Regions from separate parts of the Homo sapiens genome. Here region 2 is linked to region 1. A link means that fine-mapping ties the variant in region 1 to the expression of a gene that starts in the linked region. Tissue or cell type: cerebellum. Region 1 holds a variant in brackets; the other region holds the start of a gene. All regions are shown on one strand. Distances are from middle to middle.

Region 1 (5,600 bases):
TCATGTGCACACTCATGACGACATTCATCATTTTACCAGGGGAAGAATTAAGATGCCAGAAGTCAGTGATCCAATAAGGACTCATTGGCCTGTGTTCCTTCTGTTCAGATACATGTACAGTTGTCTATGTTTCTCATGATGAAGCTGCTTCTTTGGAAGCTGGAGAGTTATATAACCCTGGTCTGAGGCTGCTTATTTATCATCCCTGGAGAACAACAACCTTCTCCCTTTTTAAAAGGATCTTCTCATTACCTTCCCATTTCAACATTTTTGTTGAAAGATAGGCTCTCAATACAATGGGGAAACTCAGGACCCAAATTGGTACTTTAGGATCCTGTTATTACTGCTAAACCTACGTCAGAATGCAGCTATAGAGAATTTAGGAAGAGACTCCATTTTTAGAGATGTTACATCTATGTGATTCAACTATTGCTTCTTTGAATTATATGGATATATGTATGTTAGAGCTTCCTTCGGAAAAACAAACAGTTCTTTAAGGACCTAGATAGAAGCTGTCTTAAAAGAGAAGTGTTTTTTTGTTTTGTTTTGTTTTGTTTTGTTTTTTTAATGGAGTAGCCATTCTTTTATCCCTTTACTTTCCTAATAATCTTGCTTTCGCTTTCTTCTACAGACTGGCGCTGAATTCTTTCTTGCGTGAGATCCAAGAACCCTCTCTTCGGGTCTGCATTGGGACCGCTTTTCTTTCTTTCTTTTTTTTTTCCATAGGTTTTTGGGGTACAGGTGGTATTTGGTTACATGAGTAAGTTATTTAGTGGTGATTTGTGAGATTTTGGTGCACCCCTCACCCGAGCAGTATAGGCTGTACTCTATTTGTAGTCTTTTATCCTTCACCCCCCTTTCCACCCTTCCCCCAAAGTCCCCAAAGTCCATTGTATCATTCTTATGCCTCATAGCTTAGCTCCCACATATCAGTGAGAACATAAGATGTTTGGTTTTCCATTCCTGAGTTACTTCATTTAGAATAATAGTCTCCAATCTCACCCAGGTCACTGCAAATACTGTTAATTCATTCCTTTCAAAAAATAAGTTTTTAAAAGAGAAAAAAAAAAGATATATGGGTACTTAACACTTAGAGGTTGTTTGGCATTATTTTGGACATTCTTTAGCTTAAACCAGGGCTTTGAATTTTGCTTTTTGACATTTTAATTGATTTACATTCTGGGAACACTCTTTTTAAAAGGAAACTTTTAAAATGTTAAATTATTACTTTGTGTAAAATGCCAAAATATTATGTATACATGCAGAGTTCCCAGAAAATGCTTAATAAATACTCATTGTCGTTCTTTCCTAGAAATCGAAGCCAAAATTTTACGTGCTTTCCATGTTCCCTTATCCTTCTGGTAAGCTGCACATGGGCCATGTGCGTGTCTACACCATCAGCGACACCATAGCACGGTTCCAGAAGATGAGAGGGATGCAGGTAAGAACAGGTGCCTGCTGGAGCAGCCCTTGTCTGCCACACGCAGGGTTGGCATGTAGTAATATGTGTTCAAGACAAATGAAGAAAACCAACTTTAGTTAAGATTAGGACAGCTTTGAAGATGGACATGAAAAGCTCAGTGTTTCCTTTTATGGATTAGATGATATTATAATAAAGCATCTAGGTTAATTGGGGGGCAGCCATGAGTTGGGTGTTGTGCTGGGGTGGAGATCAGATGGGAATGGGGTGAAAGGTAGATACAAATGTGGATAACACTGATAATCTTCCCAGGAGATACTCACCCATGAGTAGAGAATCATTGTATATAACGAACTGAGGTCAACAGTACAAATACACATCAGTGCTATGAGTGGCAGGTGAGACTGCAAGATATTTCTTTCTGTTCTATTTGATATTTTCCATATTCTTTGAGCATGTATTTCTTTTCTTTTTTTTTTGAGGCGGAGTCTTGCTCTGTCGCCCAGGCTGGAGTGCAGTGACGCAGTCTCGGCTCACTGCAACCTCCCCCTCCCGGGTTCACGCCATTCTCCTGCCTCAGCCTCCCGAGTAGCTGGGACTACAGGTGCCCACCACCACGCCTGGCTAATTTTTTGTATTTTTAGTAGAGACGGTTTCACTGTGTTAGCCAGGATGGTCTTGATTTCCTGGCCTCGTGATCCGCCCACCTTGGCCTCCCAAAGTGCTGTGATTACAGGTGTGAGCCACCATGCCCGGCAGAGCATGTATTTATTTTCTAATGGAAAAAAATAATTTTTTTAAGAAAAGATATTTGGGGAGTAACAACTCTGGGGAGTTGGGGAAAGTGCCACTAAAGAAGGAACATCTGGTCTGGGCACCTGGCTCATGCCTGTAATTCCAGTGCTTTGGGAGGCCCAGGCAGGAGGATTACTTGAGCCCAGGAGTTCGAGACCAGCCTGAGCAATGTAGCAAAACCCTGTCTCCACAAAAAATACAAAAAATTAGCTCAGTGTGGTGGCACACACCTGTAGTCCCAGCTACTCAGGAGGCTGAGGTGGGAGAATCACATGAACCTGGGAGGTCAAGGCTGCAGTGAGTTGTAATTGTGTCACTACACTCCAGCCTGGGCAACAGAGTGAGACACTATCTTAAAAAAAAAAGAATCTGATATGGGCCTTGAAGAATGAGGTGAAATTTATTGTGAGAGAGGAGGACAAAC[G/A]CCCTTCCTTGGCTGATGTGGGCCATTCCTCTTTACCCCCCGCCTGCTTTTTAAAAAAATTTTTTTGAGACAGGGTCTCATTTTGTCACCCCGGCTGGAGTGCTGTGGTTGCAATCACAGTTCATTGCAGCCTCGACCTCCCAGGCTCAACTTCCGACTCTGTCTCCCAAGTAGCTGGGACTATAGGTGTGTGCCACCACGCTCAGCTAATTTTTTGTAATTTTTGTAGAGACAGGGTTTCACCATGTTGTTCAGGCATGTCTTGAACCCCTGGGCTCAAGCAATCCACCCACCTCAGCCTCCCAAGGTGCTAGGATTATAGATATGAGCTACCGCACCTAGCCCAGAGCCTAATCTTTACTAGCAATCTTTAGCAACACATCATCTTTAAGATGGGTGTTGGATAATCATAATATCTTCTTTATCCACCTACGAAATATGGCAGTATTCAAGAAGGGCTGAGAGCATGGCCCATTGAACCAAACTGCCAGGATTCAAATTCCAGCTCTTAATACTTACAAGCTGTGTGGCCTTTGAGTAGTTAATTAATTAACCTCTTCAACACCTTGTTTTCTCTCATCTATAAAATAGGGATAAAATAGTACCTGCCCCATTGGCCTGTTAAAAGGATTCAAAGAGGATGACTATGAAGCACTTAGATACCTAACACACAGTATGTAACCAATAAGTATTAGCAATTGCCAGCAGTGGACAGGAACCTGCACACACCAGCACCTGAGAGCCAACTATGTATATCTCTGCCCAATGTTGTGTTTATTAGTCACCTTGGCAGCTTGAAATCTGCCATTGAGGGAGTATTTACGTCATGGTAATCAGCAAACCTACAAATCATGGCCTTTTCCTCCAGAGAGCCAATTGTTAATTAAACATTTACTGGAACCCCAGTGGCCATTGCTACTATGAACCTGTCAGGGCCTATACAAATGATATCTGCTGCCTCTCAGTTCTTTCTATTTTATTTTAGCAAGGTAAGTACATCCATTGTCATAACTGGTTTGAAATTTTATGCTGAGCTGACATTGGCTGCAAGAAGTATTCCTAAAAGAGGGTCACGTTGTAATGTCTTTGTCACTTGAAGAGTTAAATAACTTTATACTACCAAATTCAGAGATTTGTGTTCCACTTTAAGATGGCTGAGGGTGTTTGTCTCTCTGGTTTTTGTCAGATGTTATTTTTCCCAGATAACTGTTTTTCATTATTTCTGCTATGTTTATTAGAAAGAGGTGGGACAGGCCAGGCATGGTGGCTCATGCCTGTAATCCCAGCACTTTGGGAGGCCGAAGTGGGCAGATCACCTGAGGTCGGGAGGTCAAGACCAGCCTGACCAACATGGAGAAACCCCATCTCTACTAAAAATACAAAATTAGCCAGGCATGGTGGCCCGTGCTTGTAATCTGAGCTACTCGGGAGGCTGAGGCAGGAGAATTGCTTGAACCCGGGAGGCAGAGGTTGCAGTGAGCCAAGATCATGCCATTGCACTCCAGCCTGGGCAACAAGAGCGAAACTCCGTCTCCAAAGACAAAAAAAAAAAAAAAAAAAGAAAGATGTGGGACAGAATGAATTGGCTCTTTGCCTAAAGATAAAGATAAAGACAATTCTTTATCTCACTGTGATAAAGAATCTAGTTGTGATTCTTTAATTAGATTTGTCTAAATTTTTTTTAACTTAGGCCAACTTATTTCGGACAATTAGTGAGTGCAGGCAAATTGCCTACAATTAAGCTTTTTTTTGTTTGTTTTTTGAGGCGGATCTTCGCTCTTGTTGCCCAGGCTGGAGTGCAATGGTGCGATCTCAGCTCACTGCAACCTCTGCCTCCTGGGTTCAAGCAATTCTCCTGCCTCAGCCTTCCAAGTAGCTGAGATTACAGGCACCCACCACCACACTCAGCTAATTTTTGTATTTAATTAGAGACGGGGTTTCACCATGTTGGTCAGGCTGGTCTCGAACTCCTGACCTCAGATGATCCGCCCGCCTTGGGACAGTTAAGCTTTTATAGCAACTGTACATTTATGATAGGGTGCAGGGAAGCCTGTTAGCAAAACAGGTGGTTGAGGGGCTTGTAGGTGGGATTCTAATTTCCTTGGATGGGATGAGATGTTACAGAGGAGGCTCAAGGCAGAGCTCCAGGCCCAAAGGAACTGGTACCCTTGCAGGCAGCTCAGGCCCAAAAGACAAGGAGTCCTCCTACCATATCTGAAGCCTAAGGTCAGGCTAGACCCAGAAATTGAACAACCTAGATTTGAACCTACCACTTTCTAGCCAAGCGACTCTACAGAGTCATTTAATGTCCCTGTATCCCACTTTCTTAATCTTTAACATAGGGATAACAATACTTTATTCCTCACAGGGTTATGAGGATTAGATGAGATAGTGCTTGTATCTGGCACATAATAATCCCATAATAAGTGACAGCTGTAATTATTATTTATACTGATCTTATTCCTCAGAGCTGCTTAGGAAGGTGATTCGTCACCATTTAATAAATGAATCTTGTAATTCATATTATCCATCCTGTGGCTTGATTTGCTTATGGTTGAAACCACTATTTGTTATTTGGTTGATGGTTTCTTAGTCTGTGTGATCAGCAGATACCTAAGGTTGTCTTTTTGTTTCACAGTTTCAGTTGCTGTGTTTAAGATAGCAAGCCCTCTTTTCAGGGTGTTCTCTAGGTTCTCCTGAAATTAATTTCTTATTAATTTTCATAGTTCATATTTAAGTCACAGCATCTCAGATACAACCACCAAATCTGGTGAAAACTTGTCTGGTCATTTTTAAGTGATGTGGGAAAAGAGAAACAAATCTTGGTTTCATTGTCAGTGATGTGAAAGAAAGTCTGTTGAGCTTCCTTGTCATTTTAAAATCTTTCCTGCCCAGTGTCAGGATTGGTCCCTGAGATTGAATAAACTTGGACTCAAGTTTAACGATCCTCACTCTAAGCAG
Region 2 (5,600 bases), 780 kb before region 1:
CATATAATCCTTGGTCATAGGTCAATCACATTCCAATTTGCATTAAAAACAACTCTGGCAAAGTGGGGTTTTATAGAAAGATGAGAAATACAAACTTTCCATTCAGACCGGGATTTCCATTTTAGTTGATCAGTAGTCTAAGATCTTAACCCATCTTGAAATGTCAGTCCTGTGCTTCCAGCCTCTTCTCATATGCCTATCTCAAACTCATTTATTTCTTGTTTGCTTAGTTTTTTTCACCAGTACATTTGGGGATTTTAAATACCAGGAATGTGTGTGTATGTAAAACAAAGGCTATGTGTTGTATTATACCACTGTCCCAGAGCTCTGGCCCACTTTAAACAGGTTTTGTATAGTTCCACCTTGGTCAAAGATAGGGTGTTCCTTTCCTATCACCATCATTCCACAAGGTTACCAAGTCTTTCATCTTGGGACAGTGGTGAGGGTGCTTCAAGTTCTTTGTCAGATGGGCAGAATCTCAGGGCACAAACTGAGTGACAAAACTGAGGCTCTGGGCTGGCCACTGGCAACTGGTGGTTCTTACCAGCTGACAACTCTTTGGTTACATGCTTCCGGGCCATTGCTTAGTAGGAGTGTGAATGATTACAGGCTCACTGGTCAGTGGTCCATAGTCTAGTTGGTCATTTTGGCTCCTCCCATTCCTTTCTTCTTTCCCAGCAAGGCAAGAATGTTTTTCACCTTACTAAAGGCTTCTAATGGCCTAACTCACTATCGTTTTTGTCACTTTTGTTTCCAGTCCCATAGTGTGTAACTCCTGTCTACCTAGGTAGGGCAGGGGAGGAGAAGGGAGCCTTGGTTTACAAGTAAAATTATAATTTAGTGTGGGGGGAACAGCAATCACATTGATCAATATTTCAAAATCTACTCATTCATACTTTGAGACCCATAAAGTACTATTTCCTTCTTCTCTTCCTACTTGATTGGCTGCTGCTTCTCAGTCTCCTTTGTTGGGTCCTCCTTACCCTTTTTTATGTCATCCAAAGGACCACCAGGATGGCTAGATAGTAGAAAAGAAAGTTGGCCGGCACAGTGGCTCACACCTGTAATCCTAGCACTTTGGAAGGCCGAGGCGGGTGGATTGCCTGAGCTCAGGAGTTTGAGACCAGCCTGGGCAACACGGTGAAACCCCATCTCTACTAAAATACAAAAAATTAGCCAGGCATGGTGGCGTGCGCTTGTAATCCCAGCTACTCAGGAATCTGAGACAGGAGAATCATTTGAACCCGGGAGGCGGAGGTTGCAGTGAGCGAGATCGCGCCACTGCACTCCAGCCTGGGCGACAGAGTGAGACTCCATCTCAAAAAAAAAAAAAAAAAAAAGAAAGAAAGAAAGAAAAGAAAGTTTTATTCACAACATCAGTTTACAAACTCGGAGAGATAGTCTCTGGCTTGAACTGAAAGTGGTGCTCTCTCTGAAGAACAAAGAGAAGGTTAGAGGTTTTACAAAAAGGAGGAATGTTACATATTGCTCTTTGAGAAAGTTCATTGGCAGTAGTAAGGGTGTGGGGAGCTGACAAGCTCCAGTTGGTGAGCAACTGCGGTGGGCAAAATTAGTCCTAGAGTTGCAGCAACTTATCTCAGAAGCTATAGATAAAACTGGTTTTGGCTTATAATAAGCAGTTTCAGCAGTCAAGCTTACAGAGAATAACATTCCTGGAGCAATGTTGTGTACCCTGAGTGCTTCCCCCAGCTAATTTCTCGACTTTCTTTTATTAGGTATGACAAAAATGACCCAATTCTTATGATCAGCTTTCACATTTCTTAGCATTTACCACCACCTGACACATTTTTATATTTGTTTTCTGTTTATCCCACTAGAAATGTAAGCCCCATGAGAACAGAGACTTTACCTCTTTATCTATGTCCCTAGTGCCCAGAACAGTATTTGGCATATGGCAAGTACTCAGTAGTTGAATGAATGAATGAATCAAGGCTGAAGTTTAAGTATGTTGTTTAATGAATGCCAGGAGAGAACATAAAGAAATAAACAGAATAAGCCTGGCACGGTGGCTCACGCCTGTGATTCCAACACTTTAGAAGGCCAAGGTGGGGGTGGATCACCTGAGGTCAGGAGTTCAAGACCAGCCTGGCCAACATTGTGAAACCCCGTCTCTACTAAAAAAAAAAAAAAAAAAAAAAAATAGCCAGGCATGGTGGCACGTGCCTGTAATCCCAGCTGCTCAGGAGGCTGAGGCAGAAGAATCGCTTGAACCCGGGAGGTGGAGATTGCAGTGAGCCAAGATTGCGCCACTGCACTCCAGCCTGGGCAACAAGAGCAAAACTCCATCTCAAAAAAAAAAAAAAGACATAAACAGAATAACATGAACCTTGCTCATTGAATAAACATTCATCTACAACCTATATGGCTTCAGCTTTGTACTAGGTGCTAAATACATGGGATCCATGCAGACATGGCCTTTGCCCTTTTGGAGACTTGTTTCAGCCATAGTCCCATATAGGGGTGTCAGTTCCAGAAGTCCAAACTTAAGAGACTGAAGACCAAAGAGAGGATCAGAGTGCCAGTTTCCTTTATATACACCTGACTTTACCCAGGGCGATGGACAGCTAGAATAACCTCTTCTTTCAGGGGAGAGATGTCCCTACCATTTGCACATTACCTTGCACCATCAACTTGATTATTATTTAATATCATAGCTCCAATATGTCATCATGTGGGCAAGAGATACACCACAGTAAGCGAATTCACAAGAGGGTGATTTATAAGTCATGTTATTATTTATAGTGAGAATTGCATAAGTTCAAGAAGAGACCAGAAAAGTCACCTACCAGGTCATTCAGACGTGAAGGTCACTCCCTATCAACCTCAATTGAAATGCAAATCAAAATAGAAATGTCCAACTCTCTTAGGAGGCAACAGGCATCCTGAGACCCTGGGTCCTGTCTTTCATCTCTGCACCCTTCCGGTCTGAAACAGCGGCCAGTTCTTGTTCGATGTAAGGAACACTAGTACCCAAGGGCTCAGGAGTTCCGCCTCTCTTCCCCAGTTCTGGGAAAAGAAACGAACCATAGAGATGTGGCTTCCTAGAGATCCGGGATGAGGGGCGGGGTGCAACCGGAAGTCGCAGTATTCTCGGCTCGGCCATTATTCTGTGCCTCGGCTGCCGGAAGGGCTCGTTCCTGTGTCATCTCCTAGCGGCCTGGCGCCGAGGCGGCGGTACGCAAGGCTGGAGCCGCAGCGGGAGCCCCCGGTGAGCGGGGTGGGCTCGGGGGCGGGTGGGCGTGCAGGGAAGGCGGCCCGGGACGCGGGCCTGAGCTTGCTGGGACTGCACAGCCCTCGGTAGCCTCTCCCGGGCCCTGACCCCCGGCATGGTCCGTCGCCAGCTTCGTGTTGGGGTTCGACGTCGTGGCCTCGGCTGGGCAGGCAGCCGGCCCGAGGGAAGTACTGAGGACAGCAGCTCCGAGTCTGTGTGTGTTTGTGGACCGGTGCTCCTGTCTAACGGACTCTGCTGGCGCTTTGAGAAGAGCTGCCTCAGTAGCCTGCTCCCCCAGCTCAGGCCTTTCTGCTCTTCCTCAGTCTTGTCTGAGGCTAATCCACAGAAACATTCTGAGGTTTCCCTATTACCGGTGGCGCCCAGACTCTTGAGGACGGATTTTTTTGTTTGTTTGTTTTAAGGGGTGGAACGATTTTAGCTTTTTTAGTCTTTTAGTTTTGTAATATAATGGTATTTAAAAATCAAACTTGAAAAACTCAAACTTGAAACCACCCATACCAACATTACTTCAGGCAATACATTTTAACACAAAGTACTAAGACCGTAAACTCAGAATAAATGCTGGCCTTTGCGCGCGCGCGCGCACACACACACACACACACACACACACACACACACACTCATTGCCAACCTGTCAGCGACGATTGTTACTGGTTTTCTCTTTTTGCAGCTTACCAGATTAAAGCTTTGTCGTGGACTGGTGTTTGGAAACTGTTGTTTTAGAACAGTTTGGGTTGTTTGGGTTTCATAAGTTTCTTCGTAGATGGAATTGTTTTGGACTTCTGGAATTAGAATCCCTGAATTCAGAATTTGCTCCCATGTCTCAGTTAGCTAAGTGGCCTTGAGTGGATTCGCTCCTCTGATCCTTTTGTTTTTTTTAACTTCTGCTTTGAAAACCTTTTGTGAGAAGCTAATAAAATGTATGTTTAAGAATTTGTTATTTTTATGTTATTTGAAAATTATTCAAAATTCTTTTTAAAAATTCCTTTCCATCACCCCCAGATCAGTTACCAAGGACTACCAAGTTTTTCTCAATTGCCTTATCCCTACTTCGTTTAGAACTTAAGTCATGTGTTTAGACTATTAGAAAAACCTAACTGACCTTTCTTGATATCCAGCCCTCCCACCCCCACCATTTCTCACTAATAGAGTCCTGACACCACTTAAGACTCTCTTCATGCTCAGAGTGAAAAAGGTCTTTCTAATTGTGGTACAGTACCCAGAAGTCGTAAAAGATTGACTGCATGGCAAAAAACACTTTAAGCAAAGTCACATGGCATATATAGTCACAAAGACACTTGACAAACTGAGAAAAATTTGCAGCTGCCATTGTAAACAAAGGACTAATTTTCCTGTGATAAAAGTGTGTACAAATTAACAAGACCCAACACCTCAATGGAAACATGGGCAAAATATATGAATAGTTACTTTAAAAAATATACAAATGACTCTATATTAATTCGTTCAAAATGCAAGTCAAAAATTTGGCGAAGAGCACAAACTTTGAGAAACATATTGGTGAAAGTGAGGAAAGGCACTCCCATACAGCTGTTTCTGATGGGAGTATAAATTATAAATTGGTTCAATCCTAGTGAGGTCAAATTGGCAATATCAAAATTATACATGTATATACCTTTTAACTCAGCAATTCTGATTCAAGGAATTTTTCTTATATATGCCTACACACATCCAAACTGATGTATGCCCAAGATTATTCATGATTATATTGTTGGTAATAAGAAATGATTGAAAACTACCCAAACATTCCATCAGTGCTGGCATGAATAAATTATGATACATCTATGCATCCATAAAAATGCGGAGAGGGGCTGTGTATTGACAGGAAAGATCTCTAAGACATATTATTGAGAAGAGGAAAATGTACCACGTCATTCATGGTGTCCTACCATTTGTGAAAAAAAGGGAACTAGAAAACAATATATGTACACACATATGCAGAAATAACTGGAAAGATAGATAAGAAGCTAACGGAGAAGGAAACTTTACACAGTATACATTTTATAATTTTAAATTTTGAACCAAGTGAATATATTACTATTTTTAAAAATAAGGAAAAATGTAAAGTAAAGCCTCTTTAATGCTGAAATGTAAGTAAAATCACTTCACTTACAGGACAGGATCATCTCCTCAGAATACTGCCTCTCAAGAGCAGTAGTTAGAATTTAACTTCTGTTCACCTCTCTGCTCTACTCCTACACTCTTGCCTCTGAAGTTTACTTTCCTTCTCTGGTCTTCCTTCACAGAGTTATGTGTCCTTCCTTGCTTTTGAAAATAGAGTTTCTTTCTTCCTGGAATGGCTTTCCTCATAGTCCAATGATCCTTTTAT

What was found. PIP is the estimated chance that this variant, and not a neighbour inherited with it, causes the effect.
Region 2: it holds the start of ZNF197, and the variant in region 1 is fine-mapped to the expression of ZNF197 in cerebellum (GTEx, PIP 0.97).

What each region holds. Positions count from the first base shown.
Region 1 is chr3:45,398,933-45,404,532 of GRCh38, forward strand. LARS2 (leucyl-tRNA synthetase 2, mitochondrial) reads left to right here. Exons shown (of 22, transcript NM_015340.4): 4 at 1,313-1,441. Among named protein-coding and RNA genes, the nearest start is that of LARS2, 13 kb to the left of the region's middle. The variant G/A (reference allele first, on the strand shown) is at 2,640.
Region 2 is chr3:44,621,915-44,627,514 of GRCh38, forward strand. ZNF197 (zinc finger protein 197) reads left to right here and starts at 3,122. Exons shown (of 6, transcript NM_006991.5): 1 at 3,122-3,229. All of the region lies in intron 2 of ZNF660-ZNF197 (ZNF660-ZNF197 readthrough), which reads left to right. All of the region lies in intron 2 of ZKSCAN7-AS1 (ZKSCAN7 ZNF cluster antisense RNA 1), which reads right to left. It overlaps ZNF197-AS1 (ZNF197 antisense RNA 1), which reads right to left and starts at 2,883. Exons shown (of 2, transcript NR_046658.1): 1 at 2,808-2,883. RefSeq lists a silencer at 3,126-3,475 and an enhancer at 3,455-3,957.